Linked DNA regions of Homo sapiens: region 1 is linked to region 2. The links come from fine-mapping of genetic effects on gene expression. A gene starts in region 2. The other region holds a variant in brackets. All regions are shown on one strand. Distances are between the middles of the regions.

Region 1 (10,997 bases), 150 kb before region 2:
TGTGCTCAGTACTTGAAAGTGATTATTCCCTGATTGCTTTAAAAGTCATAATTTTAAAAGTCAACAAGGCCAGGGCCAGTGGTTCACACCTGTAATCCCAGCACTTTGAGAAGCAGAGGCAGGTGGACTGCTTGAGCTCCGGAGTTCAAGACCTGGGTAACATACAGAGACCCTGTCTCTATAGAAAAAATACAAAAATTAGCCAGGCGTGGTGGTGCATGCCTGTAATCCCAGCTACTTGGGAGGCTGAGGCAGGAGGATCACTTGAGCCTGGGAGGTCGAGGCTACAGTGAGCCATGATCGTGTCATCGCACTCCAGCCTGGGTGACAGAGCAAAACCCTGTCTCACTCAAAAAAATAAAAATCAACGAGCAACCTTACAAAAAAAGGTTGCCGAAAAATCTGTAAAGGACTTAAGCACACAGACTCACACACTGGAGACGATTCCATATAGAGCCATGCCAATGACTTTCACTTCTCTAAGAGCTTTGGCCCTCTCCCATGTCTTTGCTGCCCCCACACTCCTGTGTGGTGGGCGGGGCAGACACTTGCCAGCAACTTACTGGCCTTTTCTGGTGATGGTTGTTGTTCATTATAGAAAAATCCACGTAGGTCTTTGGTAGGCCCTGCTCTGCAGAGCTAATACTCATCATAACAATAGATTCAGCATCTCTATACTACAGGCATTGTGCTGAATGCCTCACACTCAGGATTTTATTTATTCCTCCCCATGGCTCTACTGGTAGAAGCTATTATACCCATTTCATAGATGAGAAACTAAGGCTCAGATAAGTTAAGAAAAGGGCCCAAGTTGCCCACCAGTAAGTGGCCGGGCCAGGGTTTGAACCCAGGTTAGTGCAAAGCGGAAGCCATTTCTATGTAAATGAATCAATCCATCGAGGCACACTTCTTTAGCCCTGATTATATGCCAGTTAGTTTACTCCAGAACCCCAGCCCTAGCCCCTGCCTTGGTCTGGGCTTTCTTCCAATAATGTTGGCATTTTCACTGAAGGGCCAAGATCTCATCCCTTCCTGGGAGACATTCTATAGACCATATCTCATGGTGACGTCTCAGGCTCTCTGAATTTGCTCTTGTCTTTGTAAAGGAGGAAGCCTTCAAATGCACAGTGAGGGGAGCACTGAGGTTGATACGAAACTCAAGGCACACTTCTGGTGCCATCGTCCATACTGTTACTGAATTCTTTACTGCTAGGAAGGTCTCCAGGGACCAGCCATCTGCTTTTCCTCCCTTCAAGGGCAGGGACTATATCATTCATCTTTGTTTCCTGGGGCTCCGGTCCAGTGCCTGGCATATAATCAGGGCTAAAGAAGTGTGCCTCGATGGATTGATTCATTTACATAGAAATGGCTTCCGCTTTGCACTAATTAAAACCAGAGCAAAGAAGTCTTCCTGACCTCGAGGGCCAATTCATGCTACCAATTATCTAGACATTCAGAGCTGAATTCTTATATATTTAAAACAATTTTAAAAAGTTTTCATTTTCCAGTGTCATATTTTAGGAGTCTATGTGGGGTGTGAACCACTGCATGGAGCTGCAAAGGATCCCACTGGCTTCACCAACAAATATTTGTTGGGTGCATTCTAGATACCAGCTCCTGGGGAGACAAGAATCAACACAAATGAATGGGTCCTCACTCCATGAAACTTACAGTCTAGCAGGAGAGACACGCATTAATCCAATTGTCACACTTTGGATATATAACTGCATAGGGCAAAAAGCACTATGAGGATAAGAAGGAGGGTCAACAACAAAGGAATCTCACTGGCTGGAGAAGGTCAGAGAAAGCCTCCCTGGGGAAGCTTGAGGGGCCATTGGCAGGATGCTGAGGCACTAAGCAGGTGAGGTGGGGCTGGAGAAAGCACCTCAGCTTGTGCAAAGGCCCTGTGGGGGCCTGAAAATAGGCCAGCGTGGCTGCAGCACAAAGCCAAGGGAGGGCAGCAGAGAGAAAGACAGAAGCATAGCCAGGGCCCACCCTAGAGGCCTTCAGGGCCATGCTCAGGATTGTAGGCTACGACCAATGGTGTCACAGAAAGAGCTGAAGCAGTGGCAGAGGAGGAGGGGGGAATAATGGTGCGGGAAACTTTGAATAGGTCACTTGGACTTGATAGTAGAAAAGAGACTGGACAAATGCAAGAGAGGCTACAAGGAGACCTCCAAAGACAGCTGCAGGAGAAGATGGGGCTTAGACCACAGGGGTGGTAGTTAGGGTAGAGGGCAGAAGAGGGATCTGAGAGACACTGGGCAGTGAAATGAATGATCCTGGTGATGGATTAGGGGGACAGTGAGGGAGGGGGAGGCCCACTTCCAGCTTGCAATCTAACTGGGAAGGCTGGGGCACCAGGGGAAGAACTGGGGGGCCACTGAAGGGGGATGAGAAAGCTCAGAGTGGCCAGGAAAGGAAAGTGTGGGTTTGGATTCACAGCTAGGAAATGGGGGAGGTTTATAAGGGGGAGGTACTGGCCTCTCCAAAAGGAGGAAGGGGAAGGGAATTAAAAGCATGAGGCAGGGGGCAAGGGTAGCCTGGCTGGTGCGAGGGTTTCCATGGAGAGAGAAATAAAGGCTGCCAGAAGGGCCAGGGTTCCTCGAGAGCAGCTATTCCCAATGTGTGCTCCTCCACCTCACCAGAAGCATGGGCATCACCAGGGAACCTGTTTGAAATGCAGATTTGGCTGGCAGGGTGGCTCCCGCCTGAAATTCCAGCACTTTGGGAGGTTGAGGCAGGGGAATCACTTGAGGCCAGCAGTTCAAGACCAGCCTAGGAATTTGAGGCTGCAGTGAGCTATGATTGTGCCACGGTACCCAAACCTGGGCGGCAGAGTGAGACCTTGTCTGAAAAAAAAAGAAAAAAGGATGAAATGCAGATTCTCTGGCCCTGACCCAAACCTGATAGATTCAAAACTCTGAGAGTAAGGCTGAGCAATCTGTGTTTTAATAGGATTGTTGAAACAAATTCCAATATATGCTCAAATTTGATAACCACTGCCCTGGACCAGCGCTTCTGAAACATTAATGTGCGTCTGAATCACCTGGGGATCATGTTAAACAGCAAATTCAGATTCAGTCGGTCAGCAGTGGAGCCCTGATTCTGCATCTCTAACCAGCTCCCAGGGGAGACGATACTGCTAGTCCAAGGACCACACTTTGAGTAGCAAGGGTCCAAATCATCCCTTCACCCCATTCTGAGAGGTTAAGGGACTATCCACCTGCTTGCTGGTGACAAATGGGGTCGGTAGCACTCAACATAAGCCAAAACATCCATCTCTCCAGAAACCTGAGAAATGTCATGCTCCTTAACTGAATTTCCTCCACATTAAAGTCCAGCACTGGCGTCTCTCTCGGCAGGGCTGAAAAACCTAATGGCAGATAGAAATAAGCCATTCCCATCCGGTGACCTGGCTGGAGAGGGAGAGGAGGGGAGGGGATTTAAATCCAGAGATCTCTGGACACGTTCACTGAAAGTCACTTTCAAGTTATTCTCGAGCTATTTTAAAATGATTAACCCCTTTCAGAGGGGAGTTTGACTAGCTTCAACTTGGAGTCAGTGCAGGGAAAGCATCTTTGTTCTTTCCTCTCTGTGGCCCAGAAATAGAGGGAAGAAAAAAGGAAACCCCCTTGGCTGCCACAGAAGAGCCTAAAGGACATGAAGCAGCCTGCACATCCAGAGAGTCTCCAAGCGAAGTGAAAGGCACATGTCAACAGGGGACACCAAAGGTAAAACAAACTCAAAAGACAGGATGCAGTTGGTTTTAGCTGACATCCCTTCCTATGAACTCCACACTGTCATACCCTAAACACGAAATCTCCTTCTAAGAATGAAACTTAAAATCTGCCTCTCAGGATGAATTGAATCCTGAATGCCCCTCCATGCTTTTTAAGAGCTACTATGAACTGATTTTTTTCTCTTTTCTTTAAGGGAAAATGTGCAAAGTGGCAAGAATTGAATACATAATTCAAAGACTTTGAGTTGGAGTCTGTGTGGACTCTGGGCAGTACGGTCTCATTTCTGTTTTCTGCTGTTGTCTGCACTGGGAATGTGGAAGGAGAGCATTTTTTTTCCCCCTAGAAAAACAACGCGTCAGCTTTCTTTGTCGGCTTCAGTGACACTAAAGGCATTGCAGTGTTAGCCAAACTGGAGCCAACTGAAGCTTACACACTCCTGAGCAGGAACCAAATCATCGACTGGATCTGACACCTCTTCATTTTCCAACCCCTTCGCATTTCTCTTTTGATTGCTCTTCATATATGTACATGCACTTTTCTGTATTTCATATACATATACACACTGACATCTTACTAGCAATTTTTAGCTCCTTGACACATAATAAAGGCATCCATTCTCAGTGAAATCAGGCCTTCTGTTCAAAGTGTTTTCCCTAGAAAATATGGCAGCTTCTAATTAAATAACTCAATGAGCAGCAGGAAGGGATAATGTGAAATTTAGAGCAGCATTTCAGCTTATATAGCACCCTTCTTGACAAGCAGTACACAGTAGTTGACGGACTTCAGAAAACCAAGCTGTGCTACATTCTCACTGATGTGCTTGGAAAGAAAGGAGGGGAAGAAGGGAAGGAGGGAGGAAGAAAAAAGAAAGAAGGAAGGGAAGAAGGGAAGGAGGGAGGGAAAACAAAGAAAAAGAAGGAAGGGAGGGATGTCTAACACATCCCAGATATACACAGGGCAACACATCACCATTCCCTTGGCATCACCCAGCTGTCAATCTGGTATTTGTGAAAGTGCCCTGTGCTTACGAAAAAGGATAGTGGCCCAGGGCTGTCTAACCTTCCCAAATGACAGACCTAGAACACTCCAAGAGACCATATATTTATAAATATTTGAGAAATGGGGCATTCCCAGTATAACATATACTCACAGGGGTTGTCTTGCAGTGTGGGTGTCTTAATTTATTTTTCCTTCTTTTTTAAAGCCAGCAGCCATATCCTGAAGCCACACAGCGTGTTTGAAGAAGGGGTGAGTTAGCCAGCACTCCCAGAGAGATTTGGTTCCTCAGAAAAAGAGTCAAAGATGAGCAGCCATGAAGTTCCTCCATTGGTAAACCCAGCACAGCTGCCACCCAGAGCAAACCAGAATCAGGAGTTCTGTGATTATTTCTTAATGCTGACATGCACGACCCAGTTATTCACATGTAACTCAAGGATTCCAGAGTCAGTAGCATCCTTAAGGAAAAATTTTCTCCTTCTGTGAGTTTAGTTATTTAAGGGCAGGGGTGATGTAACCAATACTAGACACAAGAACAGTCCTCT[T/C]GAGGAAGAAGAGAGAGAGGGAGGAGCCATATCAGAAGCAGGAGCACCCTACCAGAAAGCAACCTGCTAGATCAGGGGCTCCTTGTGGTGGCACTGGTGACATTTGAGGCTGGATCATTCTCTGCTGTGGGGGCTGCACTGTGCATTGTAGGAGGTTTAGCAGCATCCTTCACTTCTCCTCACCAGATGCCCCTTTTCTCCAGTTGTGGCAACCAAAAATGTCTCCAGACATTGCCACATGTCCCCTGGGGGTGAGGGAAGAATCACCCTCCCCCACTGCCCTAGACAAAAGCCACAGAAAACAAGAGGAAGCGGTAGAAAAAGTCACCAGACACCAATTAATTTGGGGGTGGGGTTGGGAGCAGAAAGGGAAGAAAAGAATGTGGAGACATAAAGGAACATCTCACAGGTTTCAGCCAGGAAGATCAAACTCAACTTGCAGATAAGACAGTGGGTATAGTCGTGCAACCCACAGACTCGGCGTGATTATGGGTCCCTTTGAAGGGAGCAGCGCTTTTACAGGCAGGCCAAGGGGGCAGTGAAGCCTATTTAAAAAGGGAGCGGCTTGTAGTTTACCAGATATCTTATCAAACTTACTTTAAGAATTCAACGCAGGAAAAAAAATGCCACCCCTGAATGCTCCTTTCCTTAAACTTGGATACTAACAAAACTTCCTGTCAACACGTAGGAGCCTGAAGTGATTAAAGCAAAAGGGAGCACTCCCTCTATTGTGTCTGCTTCTAATCCTCAGAGAATTTTTCTTTTAGACACACATACAAACAACTTGGGATTTGTTGATGCTAACTGCAGAGGGGTTTACGCAAGGAGGGGCGGGGGCTGCTCAGACCACAAAATGAAAGGGGAAATAGAAGCAAAGAGAGAGAGGGCCTGAGAAAGTTTCCTTCCCCAGCTTCCAGTCAAGAGGGCTGGCACAGTGCTCAAGGGCATTTGGCGTCAGTCACTGGACTGCTCCCTGAAATGCCCTGAAGGGGCAGAGCCAGGGAAGCTGGCAGGGCCCTCTCTGCCTTTTTCACTTGGGAGCCCAAGTCAGCCAAAGAAAAGCTATGTGCCACCTTTATCATGCAACAAAAGCCACTGCAGAGCCCTCCAAGGCTCCAATGCACTTAATAAAGGCTAACTAAATAAACAAAGAACAAGTCCTGAGAACATAAAACTCTTCACACCTGGGTACCCTCTTTATTACAGACTCCAGTTTAGCAAGAACCCGGCAAGCTCTGACCTTACCTTGGAAACAAGCCCAACAGGGTGAACTGGTCACAGAAGGCAAAACTGGACACATCTTCCCACCTTCAACCCCCAGAGGAAAATGTCTGTTCTGTGCTCCAGACTATTTTTGCTGGGGGTATTTTATTTAAATTCCTTCACTTGATTATATGTTTTGCACAAGTATCTGAAGTTTTGTTCATTTTGTTGTCAAATGAATCTTCCTGCTTCACTTCTAAGTGAGGTTGAGGACCTCAAGTGACATATGCATTCATGATAATAATAACAGCAACATTTATAGAGCTCTTACTACATGCGAGTTCAAAGCACTTGAAATAGATTAGCTCATTAAATCTCAACTGAAGTCTTATTTTTACTTTCTGCAATTATAAATGATCTGTATCTCTTTTCCTCCTCCCCTACAAATTCTCCCAAACCCAGAAATGCGCATAGAAATAATAGCCAGTCACGTATTAGTTGATCTCTCTGCTAGATTGTCAAAATGGCTGCAATCATTCCCCTTTCGGTATCTCCCCATCCATTTGCAATGAGACCTTGTAAGCCCTCCCATCGAGAGGTGGAGTCTATTTCTCAAACCCTTGAATCTGGGTTTGGTTCTGTGACTTGCTTTGGCCAATGCAATTCAGAAGTGGCACTGTCTGAGTTCCAAGCCTGGATCTCGAAAGGCCTTGCGCACTTCTGCTCGCATGCTCAGAATTCCGTGATCACCATATGAACAAGCCCAGGCTGGCCTGCTAGACGATAAGAGGACACTGCCAGGGGGAACATCCCAGATGAGGCCAATCTAGATCAGCTAGGCCTCAGCTGACCTATCACTGATTGTGGACACATGCGCTAGCCCAGCTACAACCACCTGGCCTGGCCTAGCCCAGACTGGAACAACCACTGAGCTCAACCACAGACTAAGATATATGTTTGTTGTTCAGCGCCACTAAATTTTGGGGTAGTTTGTTTTCTAGCAAAGGTGTAACATTCAAAGCATTAACTATACTCTTTTAACCTTGTGATTCTCCAATATGGAGTTACAATATGCAATGTTTTTGAAACTTCTTTGACCATGAACTTAACTCTCCCTTTTCTCTCTTCTGTGTGTATACACACATGCACATTCCAAGGAACACACACACTAGGGAAAGGCTGCTCTAGATCACTCATCACAGGAGTAACTAGCATTGGTTCATCTGTAAGTTTTATGAAAAACAGCTGCTTTTCCTTCATGTCCGCTTATAGCTTTTGGTGCTGTTCTGAAAACATTAACCTTAATGGCAACTGTAACAACCAGTGTTATAACAACATATAAGAGCTGAGAAACCTCCCAAACATCCCCCATTAGTCCTTTGTTCTTACTATGGGCTATAAAGAGCTATTTAAAAAGACAAAAATCAAAACCAAGAACTTAATATTCTAGGCCCACTAAAACAATAATCAGAGGTTTCTCCCATAAAAACCCCTTCCACTGTAGTAAAAAAAAAAAAAAAAAAAAAGAAAAGAAAGAAAAAAGAAAACAAAAACAAAACAGTAAATTGCTGCAAAAAATAGACAAAAATGAACTGGCTAGAAACTGATTAAGGATTCGTTTTGAACCAAAATCAATAAAGAAAAAAACAAAATTCCAAGCAATGCCATTCACTGCTTTAACATTCCAAAAAGAACTCCCACACAAGTATTTTGAAACATTCCTGGAAATTCATGTTTTACTTAATTCATCTGCTTCCAATAGCTGGTTTTCCTTTTTAGTCCAACCATCCTTCTCAGAATTCAAACAATCTCTCTAATTTCATCCCTTTCTCTGGAGCAGGGTTCAGATGGTGAGAAGATATTATTATTGCTATCATCATGATCAGGTTTCTGTTGATCAACACTGTGTAAAAGAACCAGGTGCAATTTTCCAGCAGATGCCACAAAAATAAATGATAACATATGCAACCAACATCCTACCATTTTTTTGTAAAGTATTTAAAAACTTATTTGAAAGTTATCTAGTAAAAAATAAGTATTTCCAAAATGAGTTACTACATGTGTCAAAACATACACCCAACAGAACAGGACTGCTTCAAAAGAGCTGTCAGTCAGAGTCCAAGGAGGAAATCAAGGCCCTTCCTCCCTGTGAGCTCAGCTACTAAGATCGGCAGGCTTAGTATGCCTTCCCACCCAATCAAAGACTATTTTGGACTAACAAATATAGAAGGGATGATGGATGAAACCATTAGAGTAAATCATTATCCAGGCAAGAATCCTCAATGAATGCTAAAGCTAGGTGGAGAGAGTTTGATGAGGAATGGGATATTTACATAATGTCAAAATATCTTCCAACAAATTATATTTGTTCATTACAAAAGGAAAAAGAACAGCTACACAGACACCAGCTTAACTAATCAAATGTGACCTCACCAACAAGGGCCAAATGGACATCTGTGCCTCCTGATATGGTCCCCAGAGAACAAATCACTTACATGCCTATATAGCATTCCAACTGAAAAATGCCTAAATCCAAATGTAAATGTGAAGAAACATCAGAGAAACCAAAATTAAGGAACATTCTATAAAACAACTGGCTGGTATTCTTCAAAAATGTCAAGGCCACTGAAGACAAAGGAAGAGTTATGAACTGTTCTTGATTAACGGGGACAAAAGAGACAGGACAACTAAATGCAATGTGGGATCCAGGACTAGATTGTGAACCTTAAGAAAATTGTGATAAAGGGCATTATTGGGACACAGGTTACATAAAAGTATGAAATAAATATTATATTTTCTAAATTTGATAGCTGTACATATACAAGAGAATATTCTCATTCTTGGGAAATGCAAGGGGTAAAGGGAGTTTGATGACAGCTGCCTACTCCTAAATGGTTCAGCAAAAAAATTCACATATATATGAACATGAATTAGTGTGGGGGAGAGAAGGGATAAATGCAACAAAATATGAACAATTAGTGAATCTAGATAAAGGTATACAAGAGTTATTTACACTATTCTTGCACCTGTCCTGTAAGTTTTAATTATTTCAAAATAAAAAGTGAAACAAGCAAACATCACCAAATGCGGAGCTTGCTATGGGTGGATAAGGGTAAGGGCAAGACAAAATTGTACCCCCGAGTAGTCAATATGCAGCAGAGAGCCAGCTCTCTTCCCAGCTGCCCTTCATAGCACTGTCCAGAGTATTCCCCAGAATGGACCCCCTCTTAGCTTCTTTTGAGATGAAGCTTTTGTGACCACAGGCCCCTGGCACTCCAGGATGCTGCAGGCCTTGAAAGAAAACCAAAACCACTTCGGGCCATGGTTCAACTCTTTATGAACATTTTCTTCCTGCAGGTTTTCCACTGTGGTGGTTGGAGGTCTTATTTCTTTTGCCGGCACTGTTGGGAGAGAAAGACAAGACTGGGCTTTTATTGAGGTGTGAGGGACCTGGGAAGCCAAGAAACACAAGCAGGGACTCACAGGTTCCAAGATGAGCTTTTGGGGTATTTACTGGATGCCGCCCTATCTGTTTTCCCTCTTCTGTGTAGAGATCCATTGAGGTCAGCTCATCTGGGGAGACTGCCCCCACTACTGGCTCTGCCTCTGGACTGTCAGGAGCCTTGGGATGAGTCTCATGGCGGCTCTATGCCTCGGTTTCCTCATCTGCTCTGCTCAGTAGAGATAAGCAATCCTGCTGTGTCAGCCCTGCCATTTTTGGCAGCAGCAGAGATCAAGGCCTGGGGGGTGGGCCCTGGAAAGACATCCCTGGCAGGAAGACTGGGTCTCTGCCTCTCAAGTGGCACCTGCTGCTGAGTTTCCTAATTGCTGCTGTGTCCACCCAATCATGTGACTGTGTTGCTACCTCAGTTTCCATTCCAGCATTCCTGCATTCTGTCAGGCCTGAGTCCTGCCAGGCTCTAAGACTCAGCCTGATGGTGCCCTAGTTCTCTCCCTGCAGAGCCATCAGGCACTCTGTACTTCCCCACTACCACCCCTACTCACCATATTCCAGCTCCATGAGCACACATGCTAGACTCATGATACTTAGCGACAGAACTGCCTTGCTGACCATGGACAACTCCTCAAAAGACAGTCACCAATGTGAGTTTTTCTTCAAAGAGTCTTCCTTATCCATTTTTTTTTTCCTAGCAAGTGATGGACAATGTAACCTCAGAGACGACCTCTGACCTCCAACATAGAACCATACACCAGTGCAAACCTGACTTCTTGATGTAACTAGAGCAGGTACCAGGAAGAAGATGAATTAGAACTGCATGATGGAGCCACATCAGTTTCCCAACTGCAGTTACTGAAGGTGGCCTTGTTGGGTTCTCACATAATAACTTGGAGAGGAATTATCTTAAGAAAAACAAGGAAAGATTTAGGGGCAGTGTCACAAGATGGCTCCTAACAGGCCAATCACCAACTTCACAAATTAACATTCGGGGTCTCTAAATCAGCACCTCACAAAGAAAGCTTCCCTGCTACAGCAAGCCCACATTTGCTC
Region 2 (10,997 bases):
CACCTCTCCTATTCTTTCTCCAACACCTCTGATTTGGCGTTCATCTCCACCCCTCCAATGAAATGGCACCTCTCAAGGCCACTAATTAATTACAAGTAACCAAACTCAATAGCCTCTTCTCAGTGCTTATCTTCCTCTCAGAAGCACTTGACCAAGTTGACTTCTCCCCAGTTCTGGAAACATCTCCTGGCTTGCACCATACTACACTCTTCTGATTCTCCTTCTAGCTTTCTGGCTGTCCTTTCTCAGCCTTTCTCCTTCCCTGTGAAGCTTTCAAAGTTGGACTGCCCTGGGCTAAGTCCTGGCCTCCTTTTCTTTACTAGCTTCACTGTGTCTAGCTCCAAGGCTTCACAAACTGTCTCTACGCTTAGGTCTCACATTCACATCTCCAGCCTGGACCTCTCAACTCACACATGTAATTATGTAAGACACATCAGGTATCTCAAACTTAACATGGCTCAAATATAAAACTATTGATTCCATTCCCTCCACAAGAAAATATTCACTCTCCCACTAGCCTTCCCCATTTCTACAAATGGTAATACATTCTACCAGTTATTATTATTACTATTATTTTGAGATGAAGTCTCACTCTTGTTGCCCACGCTGGAGTGCAATGGCGCGATCTTGGCTAACTGCAACCTCTGCCTCCCGGATCCAAGCATTTCTCCTGCCTCAGCCTCCCAAGTAGCTGGGATTACAGGCGCCTGCCACCACGCCTGGCTAATTTTTGTATTTTTAGTAGAGACGGGGTTTCACCATGTTGGCCAGGCTGGTCTCGAACTCCTGACCTCAGGCGATCTGCCCGCCTCGGCCTCCCAAAGTGCTGGGATTACAGGCGTGAGCCACCGTGCCCAGCCACAGTCTACAAGTTATTTAAGCTTTTCAAGCAAAAACAACAAACTAGGAGTCATCCTAAATTATTTTTTTTTTCCACAACCTGTACCCAATCAAATCAGTTAAGTCTTGGCAATCCTATTTCCAAAATGCATTCAGAATCTAACCACTTCTCACCGTCTCTACAGCTACCTCCCTAGTCCTAGCCACCATCACCAGTCACAGTGTCTAACTGGTTTACTAGCCACCAGACTTGCTTCCAGAGTGACTCTTCCAAAGTGTACATCAGATCATGTTGCCCCTGCAAGAAGCCCCCCAGCCTGTCTCAGGGCAACAGGAAGCAGCTGTCCAAGGATGAAATAGCAAGCAGATTACGCAGGGGAATGAGGATCAGGTGACAAGGATATACAGGTGGTGTGAAGGCACTCTCAAAGGAAGAGAAAAAAGAGTAAGTTTTACTTTTAGGCTTCCTCTCCCTTTCAAACTCCCCTAGGCCTGAGCAATACTAAAGGGAGATAGATGCATAATGCAGCTGATGCCGCTAGTGACCGACCCACAGCTACTTTGCCCTCCCCAGAGGACCTCTGTCAACATTCCTGTGCACATCATAGGCTTTTTGCATCTCTCTACCTGGCCCTGGGTGCATGCTGGGACTACATGTGGGGCAAGACCCAGAAGCCATGGAGTTCATGCTCCAGGTGCTACCTTCCATCTGTGGGAAGAAGAAGCTGGTGCATAAATACTCCAGCTTCTTTAATCATTAGTGGAACACATTTGAGGTGTGTGCTCAGAGGGTCGCCAGCTGGATTGAACCCCAGTTGCCCACAGGGCTAACCAGCTTACATGGTGTACTGGCTTTCCTCTTTCCTCCCTTTCCTGTCTCACTTCCCTACCCCCTCTCTGTGCTTCCAGGGAACCCTTCCCAAATAAGTTAATTGCATCGAAATCCTTGTCTCAGGCTCTGCATTCTAGGAAACCTAAACCAAGACACATAATAGTGTGTTTTTTCTCCCAAAGGTAATGCCTTTTATGACATCAAACAAAAACAATGCCATCCCAAATTTAAATGAACAAGAGAAGAGAGAGATCTGGACATAAAGTGTGGAGATAGCATTTTAGAAAATAAAATTTAAAATAATATGAGATTTTAAATCTATCCCAGGTAGAAATCAGCCCCATCTTTATTATTCATGTACAAATATGTATAGAGTATATATTCACCAACTATATGCACACACTCAAGATCCTCTCTTATCTCTACTAACTATTAGTTTGTACCCCAAACAGTTAAAAGGACTTGAAAGAACTCTGACACGTTCCAGGTACATAACTGCCCACTGCTGCATCTAAAGAGAGAAAGAAGTGGGCACATTCTGCTCTGGCAGTGAGTTTCATTCGCGTGAAATCTAACTTAAGGAGAGGTGTGTCTCACACACACACACACACACACACACACGGGAAATGTATGCACCACTCAACAGTCTGCAAAACTTCCCTCCAGTTCTTTTGAAGTGAAATCACCACTCCCACAACCGCACTCCCCAGATACCTGCGCTGTTGAAAGTGAAGGGCCTGTCCCTGCTGTGTGGTTTGGGGTAAAAAGGAGGCAGGATTAAAGCGCTCATTTCAAGTCCCAAAAGTAAAATACGACTTGGCCTACGGCAGTCCTAATTCTTTCCAGAACTCATCCCCGGAATTGCCCTTTTAAACAACCAGTCATTAACCCAACTCCGGGTCTTTTATAGCTGCGAAAACCGATCGAGCACATCATTTATTCATTACGCTTATTACTATTGTTATTGCAGAAAAGCAGTGAATTCCCGGGACGGGGTTCAAAGGGTTTTTCGGAGGAGGAGGGGAAGAGGGAGAGAACACGCGGGCGGGCAGGGACCGCTGGGAGGCTGAGCTGGGCTGTGGGGCAGAGGTGCCCGGAAATCCCCAGGGAAGGATGCCTCCAAAGCGCCTCCGCCCCGCGCGCTCCTAGGCCACTGCGCACCGGCGCAGCTGCGGCAGCAACCTAGGAAGCTTCTTACGTAAGTCAGAGCCGCTGACATCACCTTCGCCGCGAGCGTCGCAGCCTGACTAGGCGCCAAAGGACCGTCGCGCCAACCCAGCGCCCCTGTCTACCTCCTGGGTCGTTCCTAAATGATTCTGCCGTCGCCAGATTTGGACGATCCGGAGCCAAGGGGACCGCCCTTGGAAGGGAGATGACATAGAATGACTATTTATTGGGAGCCCTTGGGTGTCGTAAAAGCGAAGTCAACGGACAGCAAAGACGCCCAGGGGTCTCCCAGACTTCCTTCCTCGTCGTTTCCCTGCAGCCCGCCTAGCAGACTAGTTCATACCTAAGTCCACGTGCCAGTAAATTTGGGCGACAGTGCACCGGGGAGGAGGAAGATAGTCTGTGGGATCCTCTGCGGGCAGATGGCACAGAGCCATTTAGTAGGAACCCTGGGCTGTTCAGAGCAGAAAAGATGCCCAGGGGTCTCCTCCATCTCCCCGGGGCCCCTGACACTCCCACCCTCATCTCTCCCTGACCCTCCCCGCGGCCCCTCCGGGCCACAAGGGTTTTCGGCAGAAGCACTACGAAGTTCAGTCTAGGAGGCGAGCAGCGCCACGCTACGTCGCACACGAGGGCAAGGCACAAGTTCGGAGCTCGGGGCAGCACCTGAGGTCACAGCGAGTGACGAAACAGCCGCGGTGCTGCAGCAGTCTCAAAAGAACACTCACTACTCCTGGAACCCCCAACCCTGAACATGCATGGTGTGGGCTACAGGGCTCAGGGCTGGGCTTCTGGAAACCACAGGAGTTGCAACCCTCCTCCCTACGCCCCGTGAAGGACGTGAAAGGCGAGCCCCGGTGGTGAAGGACAGACCCTCTCTGCCTCCTGTGCTCCCCATAAACGCTCCCTTTCTGCTCCTTCTCAGCCCACGCTGCCTGCGACTTCAGAGGTCGCCCTTTTAACTTTCCACCGTCCACGTCTGCATCACTGAATCGGGGTCCAGCCCAGCCACTCAGCCCCAGGAGGATTGGGGTGGGTCCCAGGGGATGGGAAGGGTGGGAAGGCGAGAGTAGTAAGGTGCAAGCTGCAACCGGAGCGGCGCCGCGGGGCTGGGATTGCCGCTGCTGGGGAGGGCGCGAGGGTGCGGCGCAGAAACCCATAGCCTGGCGGGCGGACGGCGCGGGTACTCACGCACTGCCTCCTGCTTAGGGTCAAGCGTGCTGAGGACGCGCTGCACGCCGCCGAGCTTGCCCTGCAGCGCCCAGACGCGGCGGTGGGTGAGCTGGATGTCGCTCTCGAGCTCCTGGAAGAGGCTGCAAGCGTGCCGGGCCACGTCCGAGAGCTGCCGGAGGACACGGGCCAGAGCGGCGTTGCTGACCGCGCATAGGTCCAGCATGAGCAGCACGGCCGCCGCCGCCGCCGCCGAGGACGCCTCGCCGGCTGCGGGCGCCGCCTCCGGGATCCCCGCCGTGCTCTCCTCGCCAGCCACGGACGCCTCTCCGTGCGGCGGCTGAGTCTGGTCGGCCGGCGCGGGCAGTGGCGGCGGCGGCGGTGGCAGCCCTGAAGGTGCAGGGACGGCGCGGGCTGGCTCCTCTGGCCCTGGCGCCTCGACCTCGTCCAGGTCCCTCCGGCCCGGCGGCTGCAAGGGCGGCGGCGGCTCAGCGCTGCCTCCGCTCGCGTCCACTGCTGGGCCGGGCGCAGGGCGCCGCTGCCTGCACAGCCATTGCGGCTCCACGATCCGCTTGGCGAAAGGCATCCCGCGCAGCCAGGCGGCGACTTTCTGGTCTCCTCCAAGCGCCCCTGTGAGCTGGAGACCGGGCGCGCCCACCTGAGCAGGGAGGGGGCAGGAGTCCGGCAAAAGCGCGATCTGGCAGTCCGGATACGCAGGGGGCTTCTCTGCTCACCTTGCCTCCTCTTCCCCGCCCTCTCCCTAGCAAATCAGTCCAGCCAGTCCTCCTTTGGGTGCACCGTTCCCTGGGGAGGATGACAAGCGCTCCGCACAGAAATTTAGGGGTGCGCCTGGTCTCTTCTCACTTGCTTCCAACCAGGGTCGACTGGCTCAACTCCATCGTTTCTGTGCTCGCCGTCGCCACCCCGGCCACTGCCGTCGCCGCCGCCTATATAAATGGGCGTGCGTGTGTCTGTGTGTGTGTGGGTGAGTGGGTGGGTGGGTGTGAGTGTGTGCGCGCGCCTCAGTTTGAAAGTACCCCGGCGCAGGCCTCTCCCCGCGCGCCCCTCGGCCGCTCCGGGGAGCGATTGCGCCCGGGATCTCTCTCCCTGGCTGGGCGGGGAGGAGGTTTCGGAAAGGCGCTCTGAAAACCCGGAGAGAGGAATCTGCCTCCAGCCCGGGCGCAGGAGGCCGCGCGGGGGTGACGGGGCGGACGCAGGGCGGGGGAGGCCGGGGCGAGGGGGGCGCAGCGCCCTGTGCGGCCGCTGGGAGTCACTGGTGGCCTCGCCGTGCTGGGCGCGTTCAGGCGCAAAGACACTTCCTCACATCCAAGGGGTTGGAATTGAGACTGTCAGCGTGGTGGGGGCGGGGAGTCCTCAAGTTGGGAGTAGGGGTGTGGGCAGTAAGCGCAGAGGGAAGAGGGTGGGGTATTGAGGATGCGGCAGATTTGGCGTGTTGGAGCAAGTTTTTCGCCGAATTCCAGCTCTGTACAAGACCTTTGGGTTCTTACAGGGAAAACTGGGCTGCTCCTTGGAGATCCCCGGGCTCTATGAACGCAAGGAGACAACTGGGGAGGGCAAAGGGCGTAGGCGCATCTCCATGTGGCCAGAGCAGCCAGAGTGCTGTTTATACCCCTTCCCAGGCATCACGTGGCCCCCTGTTTTGGGCACGGGCTCTATAGAATATCGTGAATGAGACCCAAACCACCAATGAGCAAAATCCCCAGAAAACTGCTTACGAAACTCATTGCACGTTGGGTGAGATAAACGGCATTACCTCCTCGTCACCCTACTGTGCTGATCATACACAGGATTTTTAAAGTTCTCCATCAGAGAGATGATGATTTACAGAAGAAGGGAAAGTTTTCCCCTTCAGTTAACTGAAAGGTATAATTTCTAAAAAGGCATGCATTTTCGATTGCAGCAGGCTGCAGGCTGTATGCCGTCAGTAAAAAGAGTTTGGGAAATGTTAATAAAACACGTGCTTTCATGCCTCCAAAAAGTATACTGTAAAAATATTTTTTATTTTAAAGCCACAAGCCAGATCTTGGGAATGCAGCCTCTTTTCGTGTTTCTAAAGAGAACATGGAAAAAATATGTTTTATGGCAACAATAAAGTCCTCCAGACCTGCGGTGGTGTCTCCTCTCCTCCCTCTAAAGGCGGGAGAGGGAGGAGGCTCCAACAGTCAGCACTTTGGACTGGCCCACGCTTTGGTTTTAAAGGCTTCAACAGACCCTTGTCTTATTCTACAAAACAAAAAAAAAAAAACAAAAAAAAACCAAAATTTTCGGCAAGGACATATCCTTGTTCATAAAAGATCCAGGCTGAGGCTTTGGGGGTAAAGGGCCATGATGTCTGCAAAGTACACATAAATGTTTCAGTAACAACAAGAAGAAGAATGATGATAATAAAGATGTGTATGTATGAAGGGAGAAAAAAACAAAATATGGCAAAATGTTCAAAATAGTCTAGGTTAAGGGCATATCAGGGTTCATTGTACATTTCTTGCAACTTTAAATTTGGTTTTGTTTCCAAATAAAAAATGAAAGAAAAGAATATTTTGGAACAAGGTCTTTTAAGGTTTGTTTTTTATCTCACAAATCTGAAAAGCGTTGAGCTAGCTGTTTTTAAATTGAGCTTGACTTTTTAATACGTTCAAAATTCTGAACATGAGTTCTGCTGGGTAGGCAAGCCAGACACTTCTCCCTAAACACATGGAAGCATGGAGAACAATGAGGGATATTAAAGGCATCTGGTTAGCAAGCCTTGTGGCAACAGGCTGCCCTGCCTCTCACTCTCCCTTACCTAGCACTGTCCTATTAATAGCAAGGGTGCCAGTGGAGCGGGCCCATCTGAGCATTGACAGGGGCAATGAATAAGTGGTGTGGGACTCTCACTCCTAAAGGGAGTTTCAGATTATTGGCAAGTTCCTTCCAGGGCTCCCAAAATAAGTGATCAGAAAGGAAGGGCAAAGGCCCAGGAGAGAAAGGGTTCAAGGGGGTAATTAAGCTAAAAAACAGGCCAGCTACCTTAGTGTCTGCCCCCAAGTGATCAGCTCAGATTCAAGCCGAGATTTCAAAATGATTCAAAGCACAGTTCAAGGATGCAAAAAGGAGTGCCCTCTTTGTAATCTCCTTGACTCTGACTTGTGTGCTAATAAAGCCCTTTGGTTAAAATTTTAAAAACCTTTAATTTTGGCTTTTGATCTCCTTCATTCTCGCTGTCCCCTCCCCTTCCTTTGGTGGTGGTCCCCAGTGACCTTTCCAAGAGCACATTACGTTTTTGTTTTTGTTTTTGTTTTTGTTTTTGTTTTTGTTTTATTTGGGGAGAAAGACACCCTCCTTCAAAGTCACCAAAACCAAACCTAATACAAATGATCATATTCATTGATATGGTTGGTTGATGTTTTCCCAGTCCTCTGTAAGATATGAATAAAGGTATCTTTAGAAAATGTAACGATTGTTTTACATTAGTGACACCATCTAAATAAAAAACTGCTAGCTTTGGGAAGGCAGCTTCAAGACAGCCTGCTGGCCCCATCCTACCCTTTTCCCAACTCAAGTCCCTCCCATGTGAATTACCCCCACACACACACCCCTACACACATTTTTGGGTTTTATTCCTGCTTTCTAGAACTAAAATACTGAAATTTTAAAAAGGGTAGCAACACATGTAATCCTGACAGGACATGTGAATAGTCTTAAGCTGATGAGTTTTCAGCATACGTGGGAGCTGTGTCTTTCTTGTTTAAATCCTGAATTGTGACATTTTACTCCAAATTTTCCCACAAAAAGTTCTGATGAAGTCAAGGTTGCTTTCTAAAGCCAGGTTGTTACACCTGATTGTTACACCAGATTGTTATGTGTGTGTTGATCTCTCCCAATCACACCGCCTCCCCACTATTCATGTACACATGTTTATTTACCGTGCACTTGTAGCCAAAATAGAAGGGAAAGGAAACATTTTTAAATGGCCCCATCGCCTAATTCCCAGCAGTCATTCATGCAGCTCAAAGGCCAGCACAATTCGCCCATAAATTCAAATGTTTAGTCAGTATAAACTGTATGCCATTGTAAAATGAATGAAAGATCCTGTCTGTGTCACCACGCCCCACAGTTACATTCTTGCCTGCTCCAGCCCAGAAGGAAGAAGGGCTTTGCTGAACTTGAAGATTGGCATTGAGAGCACCGTGAAGCGCCACTGTCCTCAACCTGGCTGTCCTCATGCCTCCACGGAACCCTAGTCAGGCTTCCTATAGAACCTCACAAGCGGCAAAGCAGAGATTCCTAAAACACTCTTCGCTAAAAATGTTCTGATTTGAATATCCTACCATTATTTATACTTGAAAATATTTCTTTTGGCTAAGAAATGCCAGGAGATACACGGGGCACATTAGCATAATCATTGAATTATAGTGACTGAAGTGTCTTTTCCTCCACCTAATTGAACCTATTCCTCATTTAATCAATGTAATCTACTCCTAAAAAGTCCTGCCACTAAGTAAAAACCTGTTAAATAAAAAATATTTGCATTAATTTTATTGGAAAAAATTATGAGCATTCCATCCCAACTTAAGTTACTTAAACCATTTCACAGATAGAAAACTATAGCAAGTTTACATAGGTGAAGGGCTACAATTTGAAAGTAAATAAATATAGTTTGTACATAAAATGCAATGTTATAATATCTCATGAAGGAAGAAGAGCAGATTTGAAATTGGGTGGTGAGGAGTGGAGGAGGGTGAGGTTGTCATTCTTGGGAAATCGTTGGAGAGTCATGTGGTTCACAATGAAGCAGAAAACTTTTTCGAGCTCATGGCTATACTACACTTAAACTGCACTTACAAATAAAGTTACAGTACAGAACAACACCTTAAGGGAAAAATAAAGGATAAACTTCAGAGAGCCTTAAAACATATGGAAAGAGCTCATACACATAGCCGACTGAAGGGTCACAGAAAGATGTTACTCACTCCTCTCTCTCCCACACCAGGAGGCCACCATTGTCAGGCTTTCCAAGAGTTTCTGCAAAGTTTAATGTTAGTTGCTGAGCTCTGAGAGTCCCCAAATCCCTCTTTCCTTTAGTTTTGCTGGCTCATGGGAGGAAGTTCACAGCCCATGGTGGTATGCCATCTTGAATGAGGAAGCATGCATTCTTCCATATGTGTGGTTTATGATGTCCAAAGCCTTCATAGCTTACTTTTTGCAACTCTAAAGTCCAAGTTCTTCCAGTTCAGGAACTTTGAATGTGGCTTTGTGTACAGGTATTCCCATGAAACACTGGGAGAGAAACATATTCATTAATACATCAAAATATTAATCCACCATACACATAAATATATTTACACATATATTGATAACTACCATATGTATAGTTTCGAGGGAGAAAAAAGACTATATACTACCATTGAAGGTTTTCCCTTGTTTCAGCTTGTGCTTTTCTTCCTTAAAAATCTTCATTTAGTCTATCAAGTGTGAAGGACAGGGGTTTCTCTCTGCATTTTATTGATAGGAAAACATGGGCAGAAAAAATAATGCTATTAAAATGGTTTTCCCAAAATGCCAAAGACTGTGAATACAAAGACTATGCCAACCAGCCTTTTTATCTTCCTTTGCAGAGAACTGTTGATTACTCACATTGTTTCCTGTGGGAGAAATTCTTACTTCTTTCTAATCTTCAAAAATCCTAGCCTCACATTTTACAACTGAATATAATTTTAAACATGCCAAATCTGGATTTAGTCAGAACTGCAAATACGTAACTCAAAATAACTGACAGAATTAAAGCAGATGGTGATAGCAAACAACAATGGAGTTTCATTCACTTATTCGTTCCTTTGGTGATGTAACAAACATTGACCGGATGCTTCCATTTACTGAGTGCAAACATTTATTGGGTGCTTAGGCCTCTGTGAGCTGCCAGAGATATAAAAGGAAAGAAGACATAAACATTGCTCTCAAAGGGTGTTGTCTAGTGGGGTAGACAGACACGTAAACAAATAATTGTAGTGCAACGCCAGGCAAGCTATAATAGAGATAAGAATTAAGTGCTATTCAGAATCCCAGAGCGATTAACACTGTCTTGGGGGAACATAGACTGGAGCAGGGATTCTAAAGACAACGCAAGCTTCGGCGCTGGTTCTCACAGGTTAGAAACGGAAAGACCAAAGCCAAGACGAGGCAGCGCTACATGGTTAAAAACAAAACAGTGGCTAAAATTAAGACACCCTCCAACCAGCTGCAGGAGAAAATGTGCTTTTGACTATAATCATTAAATGGCATTCCCAACAAGTCTTTTAAAAACCCTGAAAACCAGGCGGTAGGAGAAATAATGTGGAAATTATGTTGGTTTTTTTCTCTTAAAAAATAGCTGATTTATAATTTTCACTCTTTGGCAGGGCTCAGTTTATAAAGAGGAAGTGGAAGATTTTTAATATATTTCCTATGAAGAAAAGTCTTCAATTAGGTAGGATGAACCACAGTCTCTAGGGCATAGGGTGCTAATAAAGCTAAACGGCCATTCTCCAGGAGTTCATAAGCTCCCCCCACTTTTTAACTGTTCAGAATTTCCTCCCCAAGCACCCTTCTGTGATGAAAACACCCAGTGCTGGCCTTGACTCAGAGGAATTGCTTTTGACTGTGGTGGTCCTGTAATAAATCAGCTCTTTTGGAGAGAAACTTGAGGGAGTAAAATCTACAACTCACATTATCAGTCTGGGGTTGAGTCCTTGTGAACAGCAGAGGCAGCAAACTTCAAACTTTATCAAGATTGTGGTGCTCATTAAGGAAGTGAAATTGAGCCAGATTTGAAGGAAAGCACTGTAGTAATTACAGAGTTATGAAGATTTAAAAGCTATGCGCCTGGGCATGCAGAGCGCAACGTGTTTCCTTTGGGTTCAGAGACACCGCAATTACAGGGCTTAAGGGTAGCAAAGCACCGAATTAGAACTCCCCATTAGTTTGATTAATCACTGATGTAAGTGCAGGCACT

Alleles and levels. Alleles are on the strand shown, and positions count from the first base shown. SD is a standard deviation of normalised expression in the study named.
As copies of C replace T in region 1, the expression in whole blood of the gene that starts at base 5,153 in region 2 goes down (large effect, 0.78 SD a copy in GTEx).

Evidence for each region.
Region 1: its variant is fine-mapped to the expression of NHS in whole blood (TOPMed, PIP above 0.99). The same link has a PIP of 0.9 or more in blood mononuclear cells and monocytes.

Annotation. Positions count from the first base shown.
Region 1 is chrX:17,522,655-17,533,651 of GRCh38, reverse strand. The region is part of intron 1 of NHS (NHS actin remodeling regulator); the gene reads right to left. It overlaps LOC101928389 (a long non-coding RNA gene), which reads right to left and starts at 5,217. Exons shown (of 2, transcript NR_135631.1): 1 at 4,894-5,217. The variant T/C (reference allele first, on the strand shown) is at 5,285.
Region 2 is chrX:17,369,356-17,380,352 of GRCh38, reverse strand. NHS (NHS actin remodeling regulator) reads right to left here and starts at 5,153. Exons shown (of 9, transcript NM_001291867.2): 1 at 4,031-5,153. The coding sequence starts at 4,595.